Regions from separate parts of the Homo sapiens genome. Here region 1 is linked to region 2. A link means that fine-mapping ties the variant in region 2 to the expression of a gene that starts in the linked region. Tissue or cell type: whole blood. Region 2 holds a variant in brackets; the other region holds the start of a gene. All regions are shown on one strand. Distances are between the middles of the regions.

What was found. PIP is the estimated chance that this variant, and not a neighbour inherited with it, causes the effect.
Region 1: HYCC1 starts here. The variant in region 2 is fine-mapped to the expression of HYCC1 in whole blood (INTERVAL, PIP above 0.99).

What each region holds. Positions count from the first base shown.
Region 1 is chr7:23,012,925-23,015,545 of GRCh38, reverse strand. It overlaps HYCC1 (hyccin PI4KA lipid kinase complex subunit 1), which reads left to right and starts at 1,416. Exons shown (of 11, transcript NM_032581.4): 1 at 1,416-1,621. RefSeq lists enhancers at 1,086-1,265, 1,426-1,615, 2,033-2,621 and a silencer at 1,806-2,075.
Region 2 is chr7:22,926,642-22,929,141 of GRCh38, reverse strand. It overlaps a transcript of HYCC1 not described here. Among named protein-coding and RNA genes, the nearest start is that of SNORD93, 71 kb to the right of the region's middle. The variant G/A (reference allele first, on the strand shown) is at 1,409.

The DNA.
Region 1 (2,621 bases), 86 kb before region 2:
TTTGGACAACACAAATATAGAACATTTTCACCAGTGCAGAAAGCTCTGCTGGACAGTGCTTGTCTGAATATCTTAGTGTAGCTTGTGAGGTCTTTTACAATCTCACCTCAACCTTTTGCTCCAGCCCAATTTTTGGCCGTTCCTCATCATTTAACCCCATCTACCTTCTCAACATTCCACAATGGCTCTGTGCCCTTTCACAGCTCCATGCCTTTGAACATGGTGTTCTCCCTTTCTGAAATACCCTTTGACTTTCTTCTCTGGCAAACTCCCATTTACCTTTTAAGATCCAACTCAAACATTACCTTCCTTGTGGAGTTCGCTGACTTTCCTAAACAGTCATTTCTTGTCCTCTGTTTCCATTGCTCATTGAACCAATCTCTATTGTCCTTATCACTGTAGTTTGTTATTATTTACTCATTAATCTGATCCTCCCTTTGGAGGGGGATCCTATCTGTTTTAGCAATCTGCCCTAATAATTACCTGAAATTGTTTGCTTGATACCCTTTTGATATCAAGTAATATATCTTCTTATTTATGTGCTTGTTATTTATGAGTTCAGCATGTTTGAAAAGTTCACTTAGTGTTTCTGGAGAAATCCTGCCCATTTCTAGTGTAAAGCTAGAATGAACTTCCTGTCTTCTAGGGTGGAGGTCAGTTTTTCTTCTAATTAATCCTGACCAGTCTTGAGAAGGATGTGGTAGGAGAGGTTTACAAGGTCAAAAACAGCAGTACTGTCTGCAGGCGCAGGTTCAGGTGTTCTCGGGTTCCAGTTATTATACAAAACATTTAGTATATGTTCAGAGAAAAAGTAGGGAGGAATGATGGAAAAAATAAAAACAACCCCCATGGAAAGAAAACTGAGGCATCGTATTTGACTTTTTCCAGGCTAAGCCCAAAAGCAATGATGTAGTGAGGGGGAAGTTTGTATTTCCATTTTGCAAAAACGTAATTTTTTTTTCCTCCCGGGATTTGATAAGATTTTGATAAATTCTTGTGAATTTAATTACAGGGAAGTAAATCCTACTGACTAGTAAATTATCAATTTGTTTCTCTTTTCTCACAAAAGAGAAACAAATTGATACCCTTCACATCATCCGGTAAGGTTTATTTTTTTCTGAGAAGGCCATAAGCCCTAACGGCTCAGAATCTAAGAGACCTTCGCTGATTGTCATCGCCTAGCGGCCACCGCAAACCTTACAGTCAATCAACTTCCCTCGGACGCCCGGATCACGCCCATTGCTCAGACCACGCCCACTCAAGGCGCCTCATGGCTCCGCCCCAGGCCCAGCAGAAGAAGATTCTCATTGGTGGAGAAGTTGTTCTGATCCCGCCCCGGAGGACGGCGATAGGCTGAACTGGCGTGGGGCGGTGGTGGTTGGCTGCTTGAGGACGGGTCCCTGGTCGTGCCTGTCAGAGAGGCTGGCGGCAGTGGTGGCTCTCCCGGCTGGGTTGTCAGTCAGTGAGAGGAGGGGGAAGATGGCTCACCGGGACCCGTTCTGCTAGGAAGAAGGGGAGCAGGTGGTGCTGCTACTCGGGAGGAAGCAGAGCAGCCTCCGTCGCTGTCGCTGAGAGCCTCACGAGTCGAGGTCCTGCAGGTGGAGCTCCGGCAGCCGCCCTGGTGAGTCCAGCCGAGAGACCCACGCCGGGCCCCCAGGGCGTCCGGCAACGGATAACTTTTTTTTGTCAGGGAGGAGCCGGGGCGAGGCGGCGGCGAGGACAGGACCGGGACTTTGTCCCTGGGGCCGCGGCTCCACTGGGGGTAACGGCTCCCGCGCGAGGCGCCATGGGTGGGTGCGAGGCGGCGCGGGGCGCTGGGGGCGGCTGGCGGGCGGGTGGGCTGCGGCCGGCGCTGCTCGCCCCGAAGTTGGGCGCAGCCTGCCCGCTGCCTGGAGGGCGGCAGCTTTGTGCGCGCGACTCGGGTCTTTCCTTCCCGGCGAGGAGCAGTCCAGCCTCCTGCTGTGACCCGGGTGCCGCCGCCTCGGCCCCACCGGCCGCCCCTCTGCCGGGTGGGCCTGGGGCGGGAGCCCCCCGTCCCCTCCCTGCCGCGGCGGATGCTCTGGCCTCTGCCTCCTCTCCCACTCGCGCCCTCTACTTCGGCGAGGCCGCCACTGTCCGTCCGGTCTGGTGGCCACAATGGTCACTGTCGACCCCCCGCCCTCGCCCCCTGGAGAGCAGCGTTGGCCCGAGTCGGTCTTTGGTCCCCTGCAGGGCGGAGAGGTTCAGACAGCAGCCACGCTTCCTTCCTTGGTTATTTCGCTGAAGATCTCTTCTTGAGCCCTTGCCCCTTCTTTCTATGAGTTATTCCTCTCCTGAGGCTCATTTTAACATACTCGGGAATCCTCGGGGGTTTGGCTGAAAATGGTTGCATTAAAACACCCCCAAGTTTGTACGCTTCCCCGAAATTTGCTGTCTGCCCGTCAGCTTGCACATGTGTGCTTTGTGAGTTTAGACATTCCTGAAAGATTTTAATTTTGCCTAAGTGGTTTAGTACTGCACAGAATCTGCTCTCTGAGAAATACACTATCACAAGCCTGGCAGCCGCGGCGCTCTTCAGGTAGGGGGAATTTGTTCCACCGGCAGCTACTTCTTATCTCAGAGACTGCCCTACAGGCAGTAGG
Region 2 (2,500 bases):
ACATATGGCTAGCCAGTTTTCCCAGCACCATTTATTAAATAGGGAATCCTTTCCCCATTGCTTGTTTTTGTCAGGTTTGTCAAAGATCAGGTAGTTGTAGATATGTGGCATTATTTCTGAGGGCTCTGTTCTGTTCCATTGGTCTATATCTCTGTTTTGGTACCAGTACCATGCTGTTTTGGTTACTGTAGCCTTGTAGTGTAGTTTGAAGTCAGGTAGCATGATGCCTCCAGCTTTGTTCTTTTGGCTTAGGATTGACTTGGCAATGCGGGCTCTTTTTTGGTTCCCTATGAACTTTAAAGTAGTTTTTTTTTTCCAGTTCTGTGAAGAAAGTCATTGGTAGCTTGATGGGGATGGCATTGAATCTATAAATTACCTTGGGCAGTATGGCCATTTTTATGATACTGATTCTTCCTACCCATGAGCATGGAATGTTCTTCCATTTGTTTGTATCCTCTTTTATTTCGTTGAGCAGTGGTTTGTAGTTCTCCTTGAAGAGGTCCTTCACATCCCTTGTAAGTTGGATTCCTAGGTATTTTATTCTCTTTGAAGCAATTGTGAATGGGAGTTCACTCGTGATTTGGCTCTCTGTTTGTCTGTTATTGGTGTATAAGAATGCTTATGATTTTTTCACATTGATTTTGTATCCTGAGACTTTGCTGAAGTTGCTTATCAGCTTAAGGAGATTTTGGGCTGAGACTATGGGGTTTTCTAGATATACAATCATGTCATCTGCAAACAGGGAAAATTTGACTTCCTCTTTTCCTAATTGAGTGCCCTTTATTTCCTTCTCCTGCCTAATTGCCCTGGCCAGAACTTCCAACACTATGTTGAATAGGAGTGGTGAGAGAGGGCATCCCTGTCTTGTGCCAGTTTTCAAAGGAAATGCTTCCAGTTTTTGTCCATTCAGTATGATATTGGCTGTGGGTTTGTCATAGATAGCTCTTATTATTTTGAGATACATCCCATCAATACCTAATTTATTGAGAGTTTTTAGCATGAAGGGTTGTTGAATTTTGTCAAAGGCCTTTTCTGCATCTATTGAGATAATCATGTGGTTTTTGTCTTTGGTTCTGTTTATATGCTGGATTACGTTTATTGATTTTCGTATATTGAACCAGCCTTGCATCCCAGGGATGAAGCCCACTTGATCATGGTGGATAAGCTTTTTGATGTGTTGCTGGATTCGGTTTGCCAGTATTTTATTGAGGATTTTTGCATCAATGTTCATCAAGGATATTGGTCTAAAATTCTCTTTTTTGGTTGTGTCTCTACCAGGCTTTGGTATCAGGATGATGCTGGCCTCATAAAATGAGTTAGGGAGGATTCTCTCTTTTTCTCTTGATTGGAATAGTTTCAGAAAGAATGGTACCAGCTCCTCCTTGTACCTCTGGTAGAATTCAGCTGT[G/A]AATCCATCTGGTCCTGGACTTTTTTTAGTTGGGAAGCTATTAATTATTGCCTCAATTTCAGAGCCTGCTATTAGTCTATTCAGAAATTCAACTTCTTCCTGGTTTAGTCTTGGGAGAGTGTATGTGTCGAGGAATTTATCCATTTCTTCTAGATCTTCTAGTTTATTTGCGTAGAGGTGTTTATAGTATTCTCTGATGGTAGTTTGCATTTCTGTGGGATTGGTGGTGATATCCCCTTTGTCATTTTTTATTGCGTCTATTTGATTCTTCTCTCTTTTCTTCTTTATTAGTCTTGCTAGCAGTCTATCAATTTTGTTGATCTTTTCAAAAAACCAGCTCCTGGATTCATTGATTTTTTTTGAAGGCTTTTTTGTGTCTCTATTTCCTTCAGTTCTGCTCTGATCTTAGTTATTTCTTGCCTTCTGCTAGCTTTTGAATGTGTTTGCTCTTGCTTCTCTAGTTCTTTTAATTGTGATGTTAGGGTGTCAGTTTTAGATCTTTCCTGCTTTCTCTTGTGGGCATTTAGTGCTATAAATTTCCCTCTACACACTTCTTTGAATGTGTCCCAGAGATTCTGGTATGTTGTATCTTTGTTCTCGTTGGTTTCAAAGAACATCTTTATTTCTGCCTTCATTTCGTTATGTATCCAGTAGTCATTCAGGAGCAGGTTGTTCAGTTTCCATGTAGTTGAGCAGTTTTGAGTGAGTTTCTTAATCCTGAGTTCTAGTTCATTGCACTGTGGTCTGAGAGACAGTTTGTTATAATTTCTGTTCTTTTACATTTGCTGAGGAGTGCTTTACTTCCAACTATGTGGTCAATTTTGGAGTAGGTGTGGTGTGGTGCTGAAAAGAATGTATATTCTGTTGATTTGGGGTGGAGAGTTCTGTAGATGTCTATTAGGTCTGCTTGGTGCAGAGCTGAGTTCAATTCCTGGATATCCTTGTTGACTTTCTGTCTCGTTGATCTGTCTAATGTTGACAGTGGGGTGTTAAAGTCTCCCATTATTATTGTGTGGGAGTCTAAGTCTCTTTGTAGGTCACTCGGGACTTGCTTTATGAATCTGGGTGCTCCTGTATTGGGTGCATATATAT